Regions from separate parts of the Homo sapiens genome. Here region 2 is linked to region 1. Evidence: fine-mapped expression QTL. Tissue or cell type: whole blood. Region 1 holds a variant in brackets; the other region holds the start of a gene. All regions are shown on one strand. Distances are between the middles of the regions. Region 1 has its middle 38 kb from the start of RHOU. Region 2 holds the start of RHOU (ras homolog family member U).

The links. PIP is the estimated chance that this variant, and not a neighbour inherited with it, causes the effect.
Region 2: it holds the start of RHOU, and the variant in region 1 is fine-mapped to the expression of RHOU in whole blood (TOPMed, PIP 0.92).

The regions. Positions count from the first base shown.
Region 1 is chr1:228,767,688-228,779,988 of GRCh38, forward strand. It overlaps the pseudogene LOC100421842. Among named protein-coding and RNA genes, the nearest start is that of RHOU, 38 kb to the left of the region's middle. The variant C/T (reference allele first, on the strand shown) is at 7,049.
Region 2 is chr1:228,729,247-228,741,547 of GRCh38, forward strand. RHOU (ras homolog family member U) reads left to right here and starts at 6,233. Exons shown (of 3, transcript NM_021205.6): 1 at 6,233-6,758; 2 at 8,427-8,485. The coding sequence starts at 6,497.

The DNA of each region.
Region 1 (12,301 bases):
CTTGAGTCAAACATTAAAGAATGAATGTGATTTTTTCTAAATTGAAAAAGGAAGAAGGAATGATTAATTTTGCCTGGAATAGGACAAGTCAGTAAAGATTTCATAGAGGAGATGACATTTGAGCCGGATCTTGAAGAGGTGCCAGAACTTGCCACTTGGAGAAGGAGACAAGAGGTTAAGGCAGAACAGGAAGAGTAACTCTATTACAAAGAATCGCAAGTACGTGGAAAACAGATCTAACAGGGATATCTGACGTGTGGAATTGAGGTGAAAGACTCATGGGAAATAAGACTGGACAGATAGATGAGGAAGGACCAGACTATGGAAGACCAGTGGTAGAACAAGAAGGTAGTTTACATAGAAAAAAGAACTGATCTGGTCTTCAGTTTAGAAACAGATACCTGGAGGAGAAGAGAAGGGTGAAGAGAGAGCAGGAGATTAGTCAGGATCTGTCACCGTGGTGTAGACAGAAGGGGAGGAGGCTCTGAGCTCGAGAGAGGGGGGCATGGGAATGAAAAGGTGAGTGCCAATGTCACATTGTGGGTGGAATCTCTAGAAATGATTGACCACAGCAGAAGCTGTGCTCAACAATCACACTAAGATTTTAAGCCAGGAAAGGGAAGATAACTGCACCAGGGGCAGAAATACAAAGTCAGGAGGAGGCACTGGCTATGATTGAGGGGAGATGATTTTATTTTAGATTTGAAGTGTGATAAAACTAATGTGTGTTGCAGTGATTAGGAGAGATCTGGAAGGAGAAGCTGCACTCTGGAAGAGGGTTTAGTGCCATCTGGACCCCAGTCTGTGGAGGCCACGTCATATCAGAGCAGACCTCCCACGTATGGCTGTGTTCCAGCGTTAGTCGTAAACCATTAATAGACACACTGTCCCTTTCATGGCCCCCACCCTCCTGACTACTGCCCTTGAGAATATAACCTTGCTTTACCCTTCCTTGGAGAAGGTAAGTTATGGTGCCATAAAAAATATCCCAAAGTCTCAATGGCTCAAACAGTAAAGATTTATTTCTTGTTCACATTATACATCACGGTGTCATTGTCCTCCCTCTGGATCCAGGCCACGGAGCTGCTGTTCATAGTCATCATGGCATCAGGAAGAGAGAGCTTGGCAAAGCCTTCGTGTGCACTTAAAACTTTCATCCCAGAGAGGCCCAAGCGCCGAGAGACACACCTCCTGTGTGGAAGGATTCCAGATGACAGATACAAAGGCAGCATGGGTTAACTGTCCAGCCCTCAGAATGCGCTGTGCCCTACTGTACTCCCCTCATAAAGCGGGGGGCCTTCGCAATGGGGAAGCCAGGCAAACACCACGTCGGCCCAGTGACCAAGGTCTACACGCATCTGTGATGAGACATATTGGTAGCAGGATCTTAATGGGATGTGATGAGAAGGGCGTCTCTCCTCTGTGGTCTTCCCACCCCAACCCCATACCCTCAGTCTGATAATCATGGTGAAAACATCAGACAAACGCAAATTGAAGTATATTCTACAAAATACCTGCCCTGGATTCCTCAAAACTGTCAAAGTCATCGAAAATGAGGAAAGTCTGAGAAACTGCCACAGCCCAGAGGAGGCTAAAAAAAAAGATGACAAACAAATGCAATGTGATGTCCTGGATGGGACCCCGGACAGAAAACGGACCTTAGGGGAAACCTAGTGAAATCTGAGTAACATGTGCACTTTAGTTAATGCACCAAAGTTGGTTCCTTAACTATGACAAAGGTAGCCAGAAAATGTAAGGTGTTACTAGTAGGAGAAACTGGGGGAGGGGCATGTGGAAACTCCATATGCTATCCTCGCAACTTTTCTTCAAATCAAAGTATTCTTAAGAAAAGTGTTTATATAAATTAAACAAAAAAGAGGTGCATGCCATTTCCACTCACAGAATTAACCCAAGAACTCGGAGCTCCTTGCTCACACCAGATTCTTCCTCTCAAATACTGTCACTCAATATCATGAGATTATGAAAATAAAGGAAGTCTATACCTTGTGGCCAGGAGTGACCAAATACTAAATAAATTTTTCAACTGTAGTTAGACGGAGAAAGGAAATCAAGTGAAATGGTATGCACCAATATTCTGTAAAACAAAGCAAAACAGCAAAGAGAAATAATATTTATTCAGGATTACCACTTCCAATTTCATTGACCTGTGGCCACACCTAACCCATGTGGCAGACGGTGGCAGTGTGCAGTCCCACCGTGTGTCTAGGGGATTTGTGGCTGTGCCTTCTTCCACCCTTTGGACCTGAAGCTTAGTGCCACTTCTCAGACTCCTGTGCCCTCGTGTGACTCGTTGGCTAGGATTTCGATTTTTTTCTTTACTCATCCTGGGTGACTGTCTCCCTTGGTCCAGTCTGATCCCTGGAACACCCTAAAACACAAAGTCCTTTTTTGTGTATCATGCTTCTACACTGCCTGCCTGGCCCCAGGAGCGCCGTGGACAGAGAGAATAACATCTGCGTTACAAAAGGTTATCAGAACGCAGTAGAATTGAGGCTAGTGAGGAGGGTGGAATGGAACAGACCTAGAACCATGCATGATCTGCAGGGGACACAGCAAGGGGCCTGGCTGGCTAGGCTAAAGGGTTTATGTGAGGGTGTACTAAGGAAACTGGAGGGAGATGTGGTGTTGGGTTGCGAAGGGTCCTGTGTGCTTGGCAGAGAAGCTTGCGCTTCTCCGAGTGGAGAGATTCCACTGTGTCAGTGGAAGGGTGCAGGTTGCCTTGTTCTCCACAGAGGAATCTGGTGACAGTGCTCAGGAGGGATGGTGGCAGACATCAGAAATCAAAATCTGAAAGCCAGAACCCATGTTCATTCAAATTACCATGAACATTCTGGAATGGAAAACAATAATAAAAAGAGGTCCAAAGGTGTGAGATGGAAGCTGTCAGTTTTAACTCCAAAATATACTTATCTCTTGTACACTATCTGTGGTTGAGATCCACAAGAAAGGGAGCTCCCAGAGTCATATGTTTAGATGTTTTGTTTACAAATAAACTGTCACAGCATAGAAGTTTTCCTTCTCTCTCATCTGATTTTTTTTTCTTGGAGCAGTTTATAGTCTATATTTCCACTTCTCCTCTCAAAGTAACATACACCTTTGAATGGCTCGCAGGGTCACTTCTGCCTTCAACAAATTAGCAGCTGGGCCAGGAGCCAAGATCATGCAGTTTGGTGTTTCCAAGTGGCCTTGTTGCATCTGCTGGGCTAAATTACCAGTTTGTGGGACCAGCGGGCCCCAGTGTGTGTTGCTATGCCCCTGGGAGAGAGTCTCGTGTTTCTCTAGTGTCAGGTCTGTAGTCAGTATCATTACATTCTCATTTCTTCAAATATTGCCACTGATTGGAATTTGTTTTACAAAAGAGTCACTGAGTTGGAGTCATTGCTACAAGAGTGCATTGACTTCTAGAGCAAATATAATAAAAGGTGAGTAGAAATTAGGTAATGAAGTAACAAATGTTTGGGGAAAGTGCTGGCTGCCGGCGTCCTGCTCCTGGATATCCAACACAGCATCTGTGAATTGCGCTCATCCAAGCTGCCATCAATCTGCCTTCTCTCTGCTGAAAACCTGTCTGCTATTCTCATGAATTGCCAGCTAGGTAATAATTATATCTGTCCTAGGCACTTTACTCCTTTACAGAATTTTTTATAGTGTCCGTGGGATTCCTTTCCTAACACAGAACACGACAAGGTACAACAGTTAGGCACAGTGCATGATGTGAGGGTAAAGAGAAAGGCAGGCCGGGCGCGGTGGCTCATGCCTGTAATCCCAGCACTTTGGGAGGCCAAGATGGGTGGATCACGAGGTCAGGAGATGGAGACCATCCTGGCTAACACAGTGAAACCTCGTCTCTACTACAAATACAAAAAATTAGCAGGGCGTGGTGGCGGGCGCCTGTAGTCCCAGCTACTCAGGAGGCTGAGGCAGAGAATGGCGTGAACCCGGGAGGCGGAGCTTGCAGCGAGCCAAGATTGCGCCACTGCACTCCAGCCTGGGCAACAGAACGAGACTCCGTCTCAAAAAAAAAAAAAAAAAAAGAGAAAGGCAATGTTGGCAGCCTACTGATAAGCTTCCAAATGTCTCATTTCTTTTTGCTGAGGCTTTTGATTTTGCTTTGTTTCAGAAAACATTAGCATGTAAAATTTGATTTGGCTCTCCCGCTCCCTAGATTAGAAGTTAATAAATTTCATTGGTATTTGATCTCGCCACAGGCTATTTCATTAGCTAAAGAAAAGTTTCATTAATTTTAGTGACCTCATAACTATACTGGATGGTAGACTCTGATGTGAGCAGGTAGTTACACTGTTCCTATTCGGTTTAATCTTTATATTTCCCTTGGAGATGGATGGCATGGCCCTGCTAATTTTCGCAGCTATATAAATATAGATTAAAAACAGCATCTAAGATTGGATACTGTTATGGTTCTCCTGTCTGTTCTTAGGGTAATCAGGGATGCTTCTTTGTGGGAGGGACTGCCTGGAGCAAAGGGGCCCTCCCCAGGACTTGTGGGAGGGAAGCAGGCAAGAGACATTCAGACAAAGCCCATTAGGCACCTGGAGAACTTGACAGGCTATGATGATACAGACAAATCATGGTTCCCTTGCCATTTCTTTTGCAGAAAGTAAAGAATTTTAGATCTATTACATGAATATGTTTAAAACACAAACAATTCATTGCTCCTGCTGGTAGCTTTTAAGATAAGTGGAAGAAATTATTATCCTAAATGGCATTTGAACTGTATAGTGAAAGCCCAATTTTATCTATTGTTTTGTATTTAAAACATTCAGAATAATGACAGATATGCACAACAACATGGATGTACCTCACAAACATGAAGTTGAGCAAAAGAATCCAGGCCCAGAAGATTATATGTTATTATTCTATTTATGTAATAGTTATCTAAACAAAACAAAACAAAAACAGACAAAACCAATCTGTGGCATTAGAAGACCAGAGTGGTTATAGTCGGGGGTAGTGATGGGGGGTGGTTATAGTGGTTATAATTGGGAGTAATGATGGGGGTGGTTATAGCGGTTAGAGTTGGGGGTAGTGATGTGGGGGCAGGAAAGGGCCATCTGGGGGTGCTGAAGATGTTCTATTTTTGATACTGAGTTTATTCACTCTGAAATAGGTCATTGCAAGTTGTATACTTTTTTTGTAAATAGTTTGCATTTCATTAAAAATTTAAACAAATAAAAAGAGAATTCACACACACACACACACACACACACACAAGACAGAGAGGGCGAGAGAGAGCAAGAGAGTGAGAAAGCTAGAGAGAGAGAATGTTTACATAAATGATCTCGTTTAATTTCCTGACAACAACCTGTGAAGGAGGCTTGGGGGATGTGAGGGCCCCACCCCCTGAGATGCTGTGGGTCTTGGAGAACTAAGTGCTTTTGACCCACCTGTCTTCTAAAGAGGGTCCAGTGCCCTCCCTTCCCCTCCCCTGCACCTCACTGCCTGCTGGCAGGGCTCACCCATTGTAATGTGTGGGTAAAATCAGGGGAGATGGACAAAGCCAGAGCCCTCTTGATGCTGAGTCTAGTATAGAGGAGAAGCGAAAGGCACACAGAATCCTGTACTCTGATTAGTAAGGAGAAAACCCAGATCAGAGGTCTGTAGTTTTTAAAAGCCAGTTAAACCCGGGAGGGTCCTCATAAACCCTCATGTGCAAAGGGCTTCCAAACACACTTGGTTCATAAATTAACAGCTAAACAGGAACATGGATCCCCACCGATGGCTCCATGTGGGAGTCTGAGACCAGCAAGTACTCAGCGACCACCATGGATGCCTTGTGTATTATTCGTCTCCTATTGAGAGGTGACAGTGTGCTGGCAGTCCTCACAGCCCTCGCTTGCTCTTGGCGCCTCCTCTGCCTGGGCTCCCACTTTGGCGGCACTTGAGGAGCCCTTCAGCCCACCGCTGCACTGTGGGAGCCCCTTTCTGGGCTGGCCAAGGCCAGAGCCGGCTCCCTCAGCTTGCAGGGAGGTGTGGAGGGAAAGGTGCGAGCGGGAACCTGGGCGGCACGCGGCGCTTGCGGGCCAGCTGGAGTTCCGGGTGGGCGTGGGCTTGGCGGGCCCTGCACTGGGAGCAGCCAGCCGGCCCTGCCGGCCCGGGCAATGAGGGACTTAGCACCCGGGCCAGTGGCTGCGGAGGGTGTACTGGGTCCCCCAGCAGTGCCAGCCCGCTGACGCTGCACCCGATTTCTCGCTGGGCCTTAGCTGCCTTCCCACGGGGCAGGCCTCGGGACTGCAGCCCGCCATGTCTGAGCCTTCCCCCGCCTCCGTGGGCTCCTGTGCAGCCCGAGCCTCCCCGATGAGCGGCGCCCCCTGCTCCACGGCGCCCAGTCCCATCGACTACCCAAGGGCTGAGGAGTGCGAGCGCATGGCGTGGGACTGGCAGGCAGCTCCACCTGCAGCCCCGGTGCGGGATCCACTGGGTGAAGCCAGCTGGGCTCCTGAGTCTGGTGGGGACGTGGAGAACCTTTATGTCTAGCTCAGGGATTGTAAATACACCAATCGGCACTCTGTATCTAGCTCAAGGTTTGTAAACACACCAATCAGCACCCTGTGTTTAGCTCAGGGTTTGTGAGTGCACCAATGGACACTCTGTATCTAGCTGCGCTGGTGGGGCCTTGGAGAACCTTTGTGTCCATACTCTGTATCTAACTAATCTAATGGGGACGTGGAGAACCTTTGTATCTAGCTCAGGGATTGTAAATGCACCAATCAGCGCCCTGTCAAAACAGACCACTGGGCTCTGCCAATCAGCAGGATGTGGGTGGGGCCAGATAAGAGAATAAAAGCAGGCTGCAGGCGCCAGCAGTGGCAACCCACTCAGATCGCTTTCCACACTGGGGAAGCTTTGTTCTTTTGCTTTTTGCAGTAAATCTTGCTACTGCTCACTCTTTGGGTCCACACTGCTTTTATGAGCTGTAACACTCACTGTGAAGGTCTGCAGTTTCACTCCTGAGCCAGCGAGACCACGAACCCACCAGGAGGAAGAAACTCCGAACACATCTGAACAT[C/T]AGAAGGAACAAACTCCAGACACGCCGCCTTTAAGAACTGTAACACTCACGGCGAGGGTCCGCGGCTTCATTCTTGAAGTCAGTGAGACCAAGAACCCACCAATTCCGGACACACTATCACTTCTGTAACAAAATACCACAAATTTCGTGGCTTAAAACAACACAAATGTATTATCTTTTGTGTGTGTGGTTTTTTTTTCTTATTTTAGGGACAGGGTCTTTCTATGTTGCTCAGGCTGGACTTAAACTCCTGGGCTCAAGTGATCCTCCTGCCTGCCTCAGCCCCTCTTCCCTAACGCCTGCCTCAGGAGCTGGGACTACAGGTACGAGCCACTGGGCCCAGCTACAGATGTGATATCTGAAATGTGTTCTCCATGGGTCTTACTGGACTACACTCAAGGTGTCAGCAGGACTGCATTCCTTTCTGGAGGCTCAAGAGGGGAGAATCTGTTTCCTTGAGCATTCAGATTGTTGGTGGAATTCAGTTCTCTGTGATTGTAGGACTGAGGTCCCTATTTCCTTGCTGACATCAGCGGGGTCATTCCCAGCTTCTAGAGGCCACCCCCGCATTCCCTGACTCTAGCCTCTTTCTCCATCTTCAAAGCGAGCAACAGTGAGTGGAGTCCCTCTCATGATTTGAATCTCTCCTGTCTTCTCATCTCTCTGACATCAGCCAGTTCTCTACTTTTAAGAGCTCATAGATTGTGCCCTCCTAGTTAATTCTGGATAATTGCCCCATCTTGAGATCTATAACCTTAACCACATCTGCAAAGCACCCTTTGTTGTATTACGTAAAGGGTTCCAGGGACCAGGGCATGGACATCTCTGGGGGCTGTTATTTGGCCTACCACATCTCAGAACACTATACGGAAGAGACTTTACCCGAAACATGAGCACACGCACATCTGGGGCCGGCCCTCCTGATTGTGGCTGTGGCACTGAAGAATTTGCAGCAGGTAATGCAAAGCATTAGCAGACCTAGAGTGTGCTCTTTGTCTTACATCTTGGGTGTGAAACAATTCATTGCTGGTGTTAGAAAGCAGATTCCACTGAGCCAGGAGAAACATGAGGAAGCCACCAAAGCAGTCCCATGTATGTTTTTAAAAAGTTGCCATAGGGCCCGGCACGGTGGCTCACGCCTGGAATGCCAGCACTTTGGGAGGCCAAAGCAGGTGGATCACTTGAGGCTAGGATTTCAAGACCAGCCTGGTCAACATGATAAAACCCTGTCTCTACTAAAAATACAAAAATTTGCTGGGCATGATGGCATGCACCTGTAATCCCAGCTACTCAGGAGGCTGAGGCAGGAGAATTGCTTGAATCCGGGAGATGGAGGTTGCAGTGAGCGAGATTGCGTCACTGCACTCCAGCCTGGGCAACAGAGTGAGACTCTGCCTCAAAAAAAAAAAAAAAAAAAGTTACCATAACCCACACAGTAGCATTGGCATCACTTTCAGGTGACAAAATGCGGGAGCTGTGTGCTAACATCACCATGAGAATGCTGGTGCTGTGGGAGTGCACCACCGACTGCGTGAAACCGACTGCGTGAAACCGACAGGACAGAGGTGTCCACTCCTCCAGGACAATTGGTGCTGTCCCCATGGGTCAAGTGGTGACTGGTACTCTAGGTGCAGATCTGGTGGTCACTTTTTCCAAGTCAAAACAACGACCGAGGCAACTTCTATTGAAATGCTTTGCTTACAGCAAAGTTCTGCCTCATGACAGCATAGACTTCAGCATCAGAAACCTGTCCATCAGCGATGTTCATTGCAGAAGGAATGGCTTCTCCCTGCTGTGGAAGCTTCCAACTTTGCTGCATAGATGAGAACCCTGGGCCATCCAGGCCTAATCAGAGTTGGCCAACCCCCAGGCTGAGTGGCCACACTGCTCCGTTGTTTGCAAGGAGAAGTTTGATGTGGCAAGAAGCTGGAAAAGGCACAACATCTGGAAGTCTGGTGATGATATTGCAGTTGGTGTGGTTCCTGCCAGGGTCACAAGTATAAAGAGCTTCTCAGACCTGAGATAGTTTTGCTGTCAAGATATGACAGAGTCTGCAGCTGTGGGTGTCATGAAGACAGTTAACAAGAAGGCTGATGGAGGCAGCAAGACAAAATGTCCATCCAGAAATCTGAGGTTAAAAGAATATTCCATCCCACATCTGTGCCCTAGTCTCAATCTGACCCAGAATTGACTCGGCACCATTTGTCCTGATGGACAATTTGAGTCATTTGTGTTCAAGGGTAAAACATCGGCTACTGGTACAATGGACCATAAAAGCTTCAAAAGGAAAAGAATGTTTTGTGGACTAGTTGTTTCACAGTAATATTAAATTTTTAGATTTCAAAATAGATGTTTTAAAATGGAAACAACGTGACCAAAAATTGGCCTCAGAATTTTCAGCCCATTAAAACAAAATTTAATGTGGAAAAAAATTAAAAAGAAATACTGTAGGATAAAGATGAGAAAATCTTCTAGGAACTGGAACAAAAATACAAAGGCATTTTAAAAATAGGAGAAAAAGACAAAATTAAATGGTCTATCCACAAGGCCCAACATCCTACTAAAAGGAATTCCAAGTGAGAACGAGGGAAATGGAGGGAAGAGTTTGTCAAAGATGTCATTTAAGTAAAAATTTCAGAAATGAAAGACACAAGGCCTCAGGGTGTATCTACCACATGCCAGCACACGATGAGTGCAAAACACCAGCAGCAAGGTATGTCAGCATGTGTTCTCAGAGGCTGAGATAAAAAGATTTAAAAATGCTCCACAGAGGAAAACGTAGCTCATATACAGAGAATGAAAATTCAAATGCTATTGGACTTTTCAACAGTCCTGTTGGAAGCTCGGAAACTGAGCAGCAGGCCTTCAAATTTCTGAGGGAAAATGACATCTATCCTAGGATTCTATATGCAGTTAACTGGGTATAGTCAGATGGCACGACAAAGACAATTTCAGACAGGCAAGGTCTAAAAAACATGTATTTTCCATGCACACTTCTTAATAAACTTAATCAAAAGAAGAAATAAATTGAGAAAAATGATTTGGGATTCAGATCCCACACAGGAGAGAGTCACAGGGAGTTCCCAGGTTGTGCTGGGTGGAGCCCCAGGTGTGTGGGCCAGGCCTGGGGAACAGCCTGTGCAGGTGGGTCAAGAAGATAGGAGGCTTCAGGAGGGATGTTTCCAAGAAAAAAAAAAAAGGTGTATTATCTGATACCTTTGTCTATATTTTATTCAGAGGAATTTTGTAGCTTTGTTTGAAGAATTTGATTAGGAATAAGTGACAGGTACATAGAAAACTGCACAAACGAAAAGAACATACTATCTCTGGAAAAACAATGTTGTGCTAGTAACAAAATGTATTTATAGTATATTATGTGGCTCAGCCTTGAGCCATATTCACATGGTTGTAAATAAAGTAAACATTACATATTGATTGAGCCAAAACTTGTGACATAACTACTTTAAGAGGATGGGAGTGAGGAAGTACAGGCAGTGGGTGGGAAGGGGGATATGTTGATGTAAGAGCTGGATTCCAATCTTATGTAATAGGAAGTCAGTAGATGATGCTTAAAATTATAAAATGAAGAAAAAACCCACAACCATATAAGTGTATCATTTAAAAATACAAAGGAAAATTCCTAAGAAAATTCCTAAAAATTCCAAAGAAAAGCTAAAAGAGGCCAGATGTGGTGGCTCACAACTATAATCTCAGCACTTCAGGAGGCTGAGATGGGAGGATCACTTGAGGCCAGGAGTTCAAGACAGCCTGGGCAACATGGTGAGACACTCCCTCCCCCCTCCCCCTGCCCTGGTCTCTAAAAAAAAAAATTAGCTGAGAATGGTGGCACGTGCCAATAGTCATAGAGGCTGAAGCAAGAGGATTGCTTGAACCCAGGAATGAGCTGTTTTCACACCACTGCACTCCAACCTGGGCAACAGACTGAGACTCTGTCTCCAAAACAAAACAACACAAAAGAGTCACCTCTGGGGGTTGGAATTCAGGGTAGAGGAAACGGTGTCAGGAAACTTCTTTTTTAATTTCCAGGACTTGTGGTATATTTGAATGTAAAAACCTTTATGTAAAGCCGGGCTTGGTGGAGTGTTCCTTTAGTCTCAGCTACTCAGGAGGCTGAGGCAAGAGGATTCCTTGATCCCAGGAGTTCGAGACCAATCTGGGCAACATAGCATGACCACTGCCCACCCCTGCCTTCTGGCCCCATCTCATTTTTTTAAGAGAAAAAAATTTCAAAAAACCTTTATATATGTATTTCTCTGACAAAAATATAACTTAAAAAATTTCAAGGAACATTAAACTTTGCCTGCTATTATAGCAGTTATGTCTCAATACCATAATGTAGGTCAGACTTGCATAATGCATGGCTGCTGGTGGCATTACACAGCAGATGCATGACTCTCCCTGGGACAGCCAAGGGTAAGGCCAAACAGAGCTGGCTCATGCTTTCCTTCCAGGTTTCCCCATGGACTTCCTTGAGTCCACTTTTTTCTTCTCTCAGAATCACAGGGTTACTGAGAAAGAGTTGCTTAGATATGTATTGAGAGCCAAAAGTGACATATACTGAGGTCATTAATAATGTAGGGTGATTATCTGGAAAATTCTGAATAATTCAGCTAAAAACATGCAATATTTTAATGGCAGGGGCAGTTATTTGAATTGAATTTCCTGATTTTGGTCTCCACCCTAATCAAATTTACTAGACATCACTGGACATTGACTTCTCCCTGCCTGGTAGCCCAGTTTGAGAGCTTTGAGATAGAGTTAGCGCCCAACCCAGCTGGAATCCCCACATAGATTGACTTGAGTCCCTTTTGCTGATCTTAGAACTCACACTATCCACATGAGCATCTTTCTGAGGCCATCCTTTCCCTCTCTGTTGTTCCCCTGCTTTAAGCTCTATGCTAAGGGGCTGTCTGTATGAAGTTAGGAATCAGAATTCTGTGTATTTGCAGACACTGGAGGCTGACCCAAGCCAGGCTACCCACCTGATCCAGCTTTCCTATATTTGTATGTGGCAGAATCTAGTTGTGATTTTAACTCCGTGATGAACTGTGTGACCTTGGGCAAGCCATTCAACCTCTCTCAGCTTTAGTTTCTTGTACTTATGTCATGGGGTTGTTGGAAAGATTAATTTGGGGTTTAACCTGGTATGTTAACTGCTCAAAAAATATGAGCCATTTTTGAACAGAAATAACTAGAGAAAGCCTCTGCAGTGACATTGAGGGGACAGTCTTA
Region 2 (12,301 bases), 38 kb before region 1:
CTTTGTGTCTGATTTCTTTCACCTCTCATTTAGTTGATGAGATTCATTCCTGTATGTTCACTCATTTTCTTGACTGAATAGTAGTATATCATGAATTACCAAATTAACTCATCCATTTTACTGTTTTAGACATTTATATGGTTTTTAGTTTTGAGCTCTTATAAAATTGCCATTATACGCATTTGTTCACCCACAGAAATCCATGTGTTCACTCATAGAAATGCACGGGTACATATACAGACAGGAATGCACATGTTCATGTATAGAAATGCAGGGTATGCACACACAGAAATGAGTGTCACAGGTGGCATAGTTACAAGATGCAAGAAGACTGCATCCCTGAGTCTCCACTTGAAAGGGAGCTGCCTTGGAGAGCTACTAAATCTGCTGTGAATTTTGCATGACCAAAAAATTAACTCCTATGTTTCTAGACATTGAAATTTTGAGTTCACTTATTATTGCAGCATAGTACAGCCTAATCTGACTAGTATAAAACAACATAAACAGTTTCAGAAATAATTTTTACAATCAAAATTAAGGATTGATTTTTACATCTTAAACTTTCATGATACCAATGGAAGAGCTTAATTTATCCATTCTAGTTATCTACAAGGTGATGGCAGGTGATAAAAGGACTTCTGGAGGCAGGGAAACTAGTATCAGCACATCCAACCAACCATGTGGTCTGAGCCCTTACCATGACACTAACTGATGTTTGTGATTCCTGAAAGGAGCCACTGGTGGCCCATTTGGTGGTTTGGTGACATTTATATGATTTCCCCATCTTTTCTAGTGAAACATGGCAAGACATTTTCCTTGTCATTTTTTTTTCCTAGGATGACATCCCCAGTGGTAAACAAGAAACTATTGGTCAGGGCCCAGTCAGGAAATCAGAGCCACTCCAAGGTACAGGGTTAAGGAAGGAGAGCTTTCACAAGTTTGGGAATTGCTGGGGAAGTTCAGAGGGAAACAGTGCCTAACCCTGACCAGCTGAAACCCTTGTGCAGGATACTGGTGGGAACTTGGAGAAAAGCCAATAGTAAGTTATGCAGATATGGCCCTTGGAGGCTGTGGAAGGGAAGCTTGAGGCATGAGGTGTAGGGACTGCAGCCTCTTTGGGGCCCAGGGGCTGGGTGAGGGCTGAAGGCTGCTCTGGGTCAGCAGAGCCAGCAGTGAGATGATATCACTGCAAAGCAGGAGGCTAGTGAGGATGTGCTGGGCACCGCTGTGTCCATCCACTGGCATGTTTGACCATATGACCCTCCTCCACTTCCCTTCAGTCTTCTCAATTCTGAGAATCATGTCTCCGGACAACTTTAGCCGAGAACCATACAAAGAAGGAAATTCTGGGAGCAGACAGCCATGCTGGCAATAGACAACCCAGCTTAGAGTCTCCAGTTCTAGAGAAATATTCTTCTGATGTCCTCTTATAGGGTATTGAAAAAACTAGGGCACTGCTGAAGGAAAGAAATCAGATTAATGTGTCCAAGGCAAAGGGTTACCATTTAAAGAGTGAATGAACACACAGAGTTATATGACCTGCTAAAATGAAAGATCCAAAAAAACCGTGCTGTTCTGATTTGGTACTCAGTAAATGGTGAAATGTTATCAATAGCAGGAAAAACAGCTTTATATTTAATATGATGATGACAATGACACCTGGCAAGGAATATGTTGAGCAGATAAAAATTTATTTATTTCTTAAATATATCAAAAGATACAAAAGTGACATGTACACAGTGGAAAGTCTATTAGGACCTTTTTTTCTTTTTACCATTTTAGTAAAAAACTACAAATTCACTATTAATTATTTGCTAGTGGAACAGTTAAAATAACTTGATGGAAAAAATCCTAGAAAATGTATTAATACTGTGCTAGGGGAAGAGTTTTGTGAACTGGGGATCCTCCCTTTTAGGGGATTATGAGCAAGGGTAGGTGTTGTATAATCAGTAGATGATTTCACTAGATAAGGGCTGTGATAGGGACAAGCACAAATATATCCACATAAGGGGTCAGGGAACATTTCTGGACTTGGATGAAACACCAATTTGTTTGGTGTGGAGGTCTGCTTTCCTACGTTGCCTGTAGAAGATTCTTATGAATAGGGCAAGCGTTAGTTCTGAGCATTTTAGATAAGGCTGTAGGGGACTGATTCAGTTGAGCCCAGAAAGATGGGCCCAAATGAGTGGGTGTGGGACAGTTCAACATAAAAAGGGGTAAAGCAAGAGAGGGAGGCTATGGAACACAAAAACGAACAGATGGCCAGATGGAGAAGCAAAGCCAAGTTTTGTCGGGCCTGAAGCTTATCACATTTTGAGGACTTCATTAAGAAAAAGAACACAAAATTAAGTATAGAAAATTAGGCAGAAAAATAAACATCCTTGGAGGAGGTGACACCTAAGCGGAGAAAGAGCAAGTTCATGGAAGAAGGAGGAAGGGGTTACAGACCTGTAGTTCGAGGAGAAGACACCTTCTCTGACATGTTGTTGGGGACCCAGGGGTGGGTTGCTGGAAGTCCTGGAGGAGGTGTTGGGGGTAGGTAGGGGGGATGAATGCTCACAGCTGGGCTGGAGGGCCTCAGAGAGACAAGATCTTAAGAACGGAAATTCTGCACCCAGTTTTCAGAATTTTCTAGGCCCACTGCACAATGAAGGCGTTGTACTGTCTTGGTGAAAAACAAATGGGAATACATGAGGTGTAATGCATTTTTTGTCTTAAAACTGAGCAAAGACATGGTTTTCTATTAATAGCTGCAAGAAGTGGTCAAATTTCCTTCATTCATTCTAAAAATATTTTATAAAAGCATAAAAATACAACTGTCCATGTTTTGAGAGTCCATGTTTTACATTCTTCTCCTTTTCTTTCTTTCTTTTTTGCAGAACCGTCAAGTTCAAAACATGTTTTCCTTTCACTTACGTATTTACCACTGCTTAAGTATTTATTAAGCACCTACTACTTGCCCCACGTGCTTCTAAGTGTGGGATATAGGAATGAGCAACATTAAGTTTCTGATTTCATGGAGCTTGTAAGAGGAGACAGACAATAAGCAAATAAACAAACAAATATATCATACAACTTGAACCCACACACCTTGGAGGGCTTCTTGTAGCATTAGTTCCAAGCATTTTAGATAAGGCTGTAGGGGACTGATTAAGTCGAGCCCAGAAACATGGACCCAAATGAGTGGGTGCGGGACAGTTCAACGTAAAAAGGGGTAAAGTAAAGGCATTCTGTAAAGGGGTAAAGTGGTAGGCATTCTGTCATCTCTCTGCTTTTGGACTTGGATGAAATACCGAACTGTTTGGCGTGGGGTCTGATTTCCTATGTTGCCTACAGAAGAGTCTCATGAATAGGGCAAACATTAGTTCCCGGCATTTTAGATAAGGATGCAGGGAGCTGACTAAGTTGTGTCCAGAAAAACGGGCCCAAATGAGTGGGCGTGGGATGATATTCAGCATGAGAAGGGGAAAAGCAAGAGGGGGACGCACAGGACACAAAAACTGACAGCTGGCCAGATGGAGGGGCAAAGCCAAGTTTTGTAGGGCCTGAGGCTTATCACATTTGTGAGACTTCATTAAGAAAAAAAAATACAAAATTAAGAATAGAAAATTAGATACAAAAACAAATGTTTAAAGTGAGAAATGCATCACAATAAGTTACAAATTTTAAAAGGCTAACAAACACCATAAACTTAAACAAAATACATAAGACATGACATTTTAATAAACTGCTTGACACACTTCTATGACATTATTTTCATTTTTCAGTTGCATACCCTTTGATCACTTCTTCAGTTTTGTAAGATATTTTCTATAAGAACAATAGGAAGTTACTTCACACACAGGTGAACTTGCTTTTTGTTGTACTACTACAGCCTCATGTCCTTACAAACATGGGAATTCAGATCATTCATTTCATGTGATTTTTCTCCAAAAATGTATGATGCATTTGTAAGTGTATCTGCTGCATTTAGAGTACAGGTACATTTCTGACAGCAGACAACTTCTGTTTTGATCAGGTTTAGTAGAGAGAACCAAACCTTCTCTAACAATGTTGTGTTTTCTTCTGTTTGTTTCTTTTTGAGACAGTGTCTCACTCTCGCCCAGGCTAGAGTATATTGGTTGATCAAGGGCTCACTGGAGCCTCGACTTCCCAGGCTCAAGTGATCCTCCTACCTCAGCCTCTGGAGTATTTGGATTACAGGTGTGAGTCACCACACCTGGCTAATTTTTTTATTTTTGGTAGAGACAGGGTTTCGCCATGTTGGCCAAGCTGGTCTCGAACTCGTGGCCTCAACCGGTCTGACTGCTTCAGCCCCCCAAAGTGTTGGGATTACAGGCGTGAGCCACCGCACCAGCCGATATTAGGTGCTTTATGATGGAAAGAATTGCCAGACTAGCTTCCAGCTCTGCCCATCTCAAGCTCTGCTACTCTTGCTACTGGAACCCTTCTAGTGTTGGGGAAAGTAAGACAGTTAAGGGCACCAATGTGACTCTCACAGAGGGTCATAGGTATGTCAGTGGTAGCCATTCCTATACCTGGATGGCTAGCAACAACATATCTACATAGGAGAACTGTAAACCACATAAATATATCCTGTCATCACAGCCAGGGCGAGGGAGAGGCAAGTCAGGTACCTGAGGCTCAAAACTTAACATTGGCACTTGCCTGACCCTGAGAGTAAGGGCCCTCTAAATTTGTTGTTTTTTGATATTGCCTCTGAATGCTCAATTTGTCATAAATTTTGCATCCTTGACATCCCCCTTATCTCACCTTCATCCTGATTCTGTATCCCATTACACCCAAACAACCTGTTTGGGTCTCCCCAACTTCACTTTCTTTGGCTGATCCCCAAAATCTTCATGGCCTCTTCAAAGTCACTCAATATGAGGGTAAGTTACAGTTTAAAAAGACAGTGAACATAACTGGTGGTGATTAAAATACTTTTTTTTTTTTCAAAATTTACAGAAACATATTACCACGTGTACACATTGCTAGGTCTTCCAATGTGAAAGTGTCCTTTGCAAGTCAGGGGTCCTGGATTCAAGCTTCTAACTTCTTGATAAATCCATCTCTGCATTCTGACCATGGCCATACGTTCAAGATTACGTTTATCATACTGACTTATTTTTGCCTCCAGGATTTTGGTTAGAAGCTCAGGCTCTGGGGCTAGACTATTTGGGTTTGGATCCTGGCATTGCCACTTACTAGCTTGTGGAATCCCAAAACGTTACTTAATATCTCTGTGCCTCAGGTGTTCTCATCTGTAAGTAATGTTAAGATTAAAAGAATTAGTTCTTGAAGAGTGCTTACAACAGTATCTGACACATTATGAAAGTTCAGTATTTGTTATTGTTATTTTTACTACCACTAGTATCAATGTGTATTAATAATATGTGGCCCTTCTCACACCACGCTGTACACCCCCAGGACTCTTGGTATTCTGACTTGGCTAAGAGGCGTCCTTTTTCTGAATAGACTGTTGACCACATGTAGAAGGAAGGCAGAGAGAGAAATGAATCAAAGGGAAACGGAATATTTTTTCAGACATATTAATGTCTCCGAATTACCTTTAAGTAAATGAAGGAATTGGGGGTATAAAAAAATTTCTGGAGCATACATGTATAAAGGTTCACGGCATGCCGAAAGACAAAGTCAAAGGAGCATTCACAATGGAGCTGGCATCCTTTTGCTTCAAAATGAGAAAAAATCACACGATCAGCTGCAGTTAGACTTAAGGAAAAAAGCTGTCTGTTAATTCAATCTCATTCGCAGGACAGGCCTCCAGGACACTTCATTTTTCCCCCTGGGTGGAGCCGTGGCCAGCCGGGGGCTCCACGGAGTGAATAGGAGGCGGCTCAGGCTTCCTGGCTCGCGTGGGCGCCAGAAAGCGGAACCTCCCGGGCCAGTCGCGCGGTGGTCACCCTCTTGGGAGCTGGGGAGGAGGCTGCGGAGGCTGGCCCGGCTCCTTCGGGCGTCGCTTCCCGGACCGGGTGCGCGGGGTCCCCCGGAACGTGTGTTCCAGGTCCTCCCGCGCCAGTGTTCGCAGTCCCCGCCTGGTCGCGGCGGCGCCTCGGGCGCGGGTGCAGGCGCGCGGCGCGCAGGCGGGGGGCGCTGTGGTCTTGGCGCGGGGACCGAGCCGCTCGGCCAGACCCGCCTCTTTTCCCTCCCCGCCAGCCCGCCCGCCTGCCCGCCCCCCACGCGTCGTGTCGCCGGGAAGCCGGGCGGAGACAGAGCGCTTGGGATCCACGGCGCTCGGACCGCTGTCCTCCAACAGCGCAGGGCAGAGCGGCTGGCGCCGCCGGAGCGCGGAGCCACGACCCTCCCTGGCCGCCTTTGTCTACTGGCCGTGCGGCCCGGAACCGCCACTCTCCAGGGCCGGGGACGCGCCCGCAGCTGTCGGTGACAGCTCCTCCCTACCGCAACCCTCCGGGGCGGAGGGGCGGTCGGGCCGGGCCCTGCTAGCCCGCGACCGCAAGCCCGCGCTCGCGGATCGATGCCCCCGCAGCAGGGGGACCCCGCGTTCCCCGACCGCTGCGAGGCGCCTCCGGTGCCGCCGCGTCGGGAGCGCGGTGGACGCGGGGGACGCGGGCCTGGGGAGCCGGGGGGCCGGGGGCGTGCGGGGGGTGCCGAGGGGCGCGGCGTCAAGTGCGTGCTGGTCGGCGACGGCGCGGTGGGCAAGACGAGCCTGGTGGTGAGCTACACCACCAACGGCTACCCCACCGAGTACATCCCTACTGCCTTCGACAACTTCTCCGGTGAGCTGGCCGGGGGGCCGGGGCCGGGGGCGCGTGGCCGCGGTCCACCCAGGGGAAGGAAGGTGGCGCGAGGGTCGCGAGGTTCCCAAGGGGGCTGCAGGGCCCCGGGCGCGGCTCCAGCTGGGAAGCCGGACAAATGAGGAGTGCAGGACGTTTCCTGAGTCTCAGGGACCGGGCAAGCGCGGAGCTAACACGAAAGGACCACGGCGGAGTGGGCTTGGAGAGAGGAGGGCGGAGCGGCAGTCAGAGCCTTGCCAAAAAAAAAAAAAAAAAAAATCTCACAATTTAAGCAACAGATAAGTAGGAGTGAAACAGGTTGAGTTCAGGGTGCCCGGTCAGTTTGTTGCATAGAGCAAAGTTTCCTGAGGGCGACGTCGCTGGCGCCGCTGCAGAGTTTCAATCAGAAGGTGACGCGCAGGTGCCTTTACCTGAGCGTCGCTCCTTTGCTTTTAGGCGGCTCAGCTCACAAGGGGCGTCTCCGCTTTAAAGAGCCGCGGAGACGCCGGGAAAACACTTGATTTAGTGAAAAAGCGCGAGCGGCCCTCGTGAAGGCTTAGGTTTGGATGAAACCTGAAGAGTAAACACCATTTCTTTCTTCTGAGCCCCACCACCTTCCCTGCCCACATGGGCTCGGATTCTGATTGTTGGTATCTTTTCAGGATCCCTTTAAGCTACTTAAAGCTCCTATGTACCGGGTGCGATGCCATTTCCCTTGGTAGATACAAAGAGAAAGGAATTCTCTATCTTGCTATTCAGGTCTTTTTGAAATTTAAGAAAAAGTTAAAATTCACAGAAACTAGTATGAAACACTTAACTGTCTTGCTTCTTTAAAAAAAAATTGCTTCTCTGACCTTCCTTTCATCCCAAAGGTACCTTAGAGAAATGGGTGCTGTACTGGTGGGTTCCCACCGCAGGGTATTGTTTCTTCCCCTCCCCCCACCCCACCCCTGCAGCTGACTAGTATAAATATTTAGAAACAATTAGAAAGTTGTGTAGAAAGAGACAAAACTGACTGCTTAATTAAAATAGAAACCTCCACAACATGTCCTGCTGCAGGCCTCTCCACACTCCCCGAGTCCCCGGATCCCAGTGGAAAGGGGGCCATGGCTTTCTTTTTTCTTTTTTAATCCTCCTTTTGACCTGACATAGAGATAAGGAGTGCCCTCATTTCTTAAACAGGACAATGCGGGCAGCCTGTGTTTGCACATGTTCTCAAAACACACTAGAATTGTATGATAAACCCTGAAGTTGGGGAACCTTTCCCAAGGGAAAACAGAATTATTTGTGAGGTTTTCCACTGATTTAAAACTGCAGGGTTGCTTCCCATTTACCCCCAGTGTTGTTTTTAGGTCCTTTGAAACAAGTGTGACAGGAAAATAAATCTTCCAGGACTGGGAGAAAAGCATAGGCCTTTTTAGGGTCACCATCAAAGCGTTCAGGGATTTGCTGCCTGGTTCACGGTAATGGAGTGACTTGCCAGCCGTGGGTTTGTATACAAAAATGCCTCCACAGGGCCTCCTTGTTTTTGGCTAGTCTTTAATTCATTAGAGGACCTAAAATAGGAGCAAAGGGGTTTGGAGTGAGAATGATAGTGAAAGCTAAAACTATTAGTATTCCGAAAGGGGTTAAAAGACACCTCCTGATTGTCATTTTGGTTTTGTTTTTAAGCGGTGGTGTCTGTGGATGGGCGGCCCGTGAGACTCCAACTCTGTGACACTGCCGGACAGGTCAGTATCACGTTACAGCTCAGTGCTGGGAAAGGAAACAGCCTTTTAAAGATTTCCAAATAACCTTTGATTCCCTCAGTCAGTAACTGGGTCATTCTAAAGCCTCATGAAGTGGACCCACCCCTGCTGTTGGCCCTTCTCTGAGGGTGGGCAGGGGCCAGGTTATTGGCCGGCAGGAAGCAGAGGAAGATACCTCCAAACTAATAAAGCAGGGTTTGGCCCAGCTCTGCGTAACCAGGCAAGGGAGGAAGCAGTGTCAAGAACAGCTCTTGTAGGAGTTTCTATTACTTACTCCCTGGTTTTTATGAAAAAATTTCAGTGATGCTTTGTCATCATTTCCCAAACTAAGTTAGTGATGTCTTATAATCGTTTTATTAAAGGCCAGTGAGTCAGATATTGAAGAAATTTGCTCAAGAAAAAGATGGAATTTACATCAGTAAGGGTTAATATTTCCCTTCCTGAGCTATGGTTTGACTCGCTAGGACCAGCCCCATCACTTGAAGCACAGATACATTTGTCAGAGCAGTCCTAAGCTGGAGGGATGAACTAACTGGGCTTATTCTATCCAAACTGTGAACGCTGGTTCTTGTCTCGAGGGCTGGGCCCTTGGAGGAAATAGCCAGGGAGTGTAGGGTTCCCTCTTTGTGTTCCCCAGAAGAAGCCCCCATTGGTGGGTACTCGAGTCATTGAAGTCAGGCTGTGCCTTGTGAACACCCAGGGGTACTTGATTTTGGCAAAGTGATAGTTAATGAACTTGTCTCTCTAGTATGTTCTAGAGTTCAGCAAAGTTCCGGGGGTACTTTGTAGGCAGGTGAAAGTGCCCCCTTCACTTTCTGAGGTGCCATCACATGACTATCTGTGTTTATGAAGGCACTGGCTTTCCACTGCCCCCCAGAGCCTCATCTACGCCAGAGCTTCCAAGTTGCTCACCTACTCTGGGACAGCAGATTCAGAGCTAAGGACAGATCTTATTTTTTAAACCTGAAGATGACATAAGACCGTGGAGCCTTGATCTCCAAGGAACACCGGGCTGGTGCAGGCCATAGCTTGGGAGCACTTCAGCTTGGAAAAACCAAGCACTGTCCGTATTGTATTGTCTGTAGAAAACAAAAATCAGGCTGGGTGTGGTGGCTCATGCTCTTTGGGAGGCTGAGGTGGGAGGATTGCATGAGGCCAGGAATTTGAGACCAGCCTGGGTAGCATAGCAAGACATCATCTCTACAAAATAAAAAAATTAGCCTGGTGTGGTGGCACTGTCTGTAGTCCCAGCCACCAGCCACTCAGGAGGCTGAGGTGAGAGGATCGCTTGAACCCAGGAGTTTGAGGCTGTAGTGAGCTATGATGGTGCCACTGCACTCCAGCCTGGGCGACAGAGCAAGATCCCATCTCTTGGGGGTAAAAAAAAAGAAAAATCAAAGAATACAGTCACTTCTAGCACTGAATCTTTCTGAATGCAATGGTGATATTTATAATTCAAGCTTCATTTCCTTGTATGAAGTGAGGATGCTTTGTCTACCAGGGGGTCAGGTTTTCTGAGTTTTAAAACATGGCCAGCCAGGCGCGGTTGCTCACGCCTGTAATCCCAGCACTTTGGGAGGCTGAGACGGGTGGATCATGAGGTCAGGAGTTCAAGACCAGCCTGGCCAAGATGGTGAAACCCCGTCTCTACTAAAAATACAAAAATTAGCTGGGTGTGGTGCCGGGCGCCTGTAATAGCAGCTACTCAGGAGCCTGAGGCAGACAGTTGCTTGAACCTGGGAGGCGGAGGTTGCAGTGGGCTGAGATCGCGTCACTGCCCTGCAGCCTGGTTGACAGAGAGAGATTCCATCTCAAAAAAAATAAAACACAGGCAGAGGAACATGTCAGTAAACATAGCCATCGGACCTGCTGAAGTCAGACCCTGAGGATAAGATGGAAGTCAGGAAAATACAGGAAGTCCAAAGGCACAGTTAGCAGGGAGCCTTACGGGCTGGAGCAGAAGCTCAGTGCACCTACCTGCCCCAGGATGTCACTCAAATATCACTGTCCACTGGGCTCCCCGTAAGTGTTGGCTCTTCAAGCAGGATGCAGCTTCTTGAGCTGGGGTTTCATGCCCAGTGCCCAGCATAGTGCCTGGCACATAGCAGGGCTTAATCTCGTGGTTTTAGAATGGATGAACCAGAGAAGGACCAGGTGGTGGGGGTATAAACATAAGTTGTGGGCCTGCCCCTTAATAGACTTACAGTGTGGAGGGAAGACAAATGGAAGCTCGTGAAGGAGCAAGCAAAGGGAAGAAAAGAGGTTCGGGCTTAGAGGTGCAGGCTGGTTGGGCCTGGCAGGAAAACCTCTGAGCAGAGTTTTGAAAGACAAATAGGAATTTTACCAGAAGAACTTTGCATAAATGACTGAATCATCAAGGAAGAGTTAAATTGTTCCTGTTTAAAAATCAGGGAAGCACAAGCATCACTTTAGTAGTATTTTTGCACAAAAAAGTTTATAATTAGGGAAAAACGAAGGTTTTGGTGCTACATTTGTAAGTTTCAGTTTATTTGAAAATTATTCTTCTGGCCTCTTAGCAATATTTTCAATGAGATTTACTGTATTTCTTAACCTTTGTGTACTGGTTAGAAGAGTATACCCAATTAAATAATGAATAAGACCACTATCTAAAAATTTGTAGACTTTTAGAACCAACTTCAAAACTTTTGAAGAAGAACCATCTTCAAAAACTATGAAAAATAAGCTGCTGGTAAGATAAGTCAGTTGTTCTGTTTTTGTTTTCCTGATCCCCCATTTATAAATTAGTCTTTGTTTAGACTACTAGCCAAGCTGGTCAAAGTGGCAGTTCTTTTCTACTCTCCCTAGTCCTGATCTGATAAAATACATTTTAAGGGACTTGCTGTGATACCTGCCAAGTTTCCTTATGGAGGAAGGAACACATACCTCTTCTAGGCAGTTGACATAAGAGCCTTGAGGGTTAAGTGACTCCACTGACCTCCACTTCAGATGCCTGGAGAATCAACGTGAGCACAGATAGGCTAGAACTTGGGGATGTGGAGCTGGAGTGTGGGTTTCCCACAGAAGTTGATGGGAGCAGAGTATGGATGGCTCTACATGCTGAAGAAATCACTTCTTGTACTTTGGCTTTTCTTGTTAGGGAGGGTAGGCGAGTCTATAAGATGTCAAAAGGAGTTTTTAACACTGGTCTTACATCACTCAAGGGCAGATTGATCAGAGACAGACTGGAGGCTTGAAAAAACATACCTTTGGCATAAGAGAAAAAAGTATTGCGGAAATAGGAGTAGTTCACTGGAGAGTTGCCAATAGAAGCTGAAAATTCTTCAGCCTTTTGACCCATAAAGTACTTGGAAAAATCTTATACTGAAAAAAAAAAATCAAGTTGCAGCTAGACCAGAGGGATGTAGAATCCAGTCTCGTCTCTCTGCCCCGCCAACCCTGATCAGACTTCTGTGCAGTGTCCGTACCACAGACCTGGCAAGCACATGCAAATTGCTTGGCCTCAGAACGCCTTTTCTTAAGGGTGCATTCCAGTTGTCCTCATTGCACGTGTGTATTGCATTATTTCTAAGATTTCAGGTCAGGCACTGAGCAGGAGGGTCTAATTTCTGTTTTATTTCTCAAGCCCCTTAGCCAGAATCTCAAGAGATCTGGGGAGATAGCTTTCCAAAGCCCCCTCAGAAGTCCCAGCCCTTGTGCTTGCCTTTATTTTTCTCAGTAATGCAACCCCAGATACCAGGGCATGGCCAGGGGTGCAGCTACCTGAGGGGGCTGCCTTAATACTGGTCTCAGTTTTATGCTTCTTTCTTTGAGGCCCTC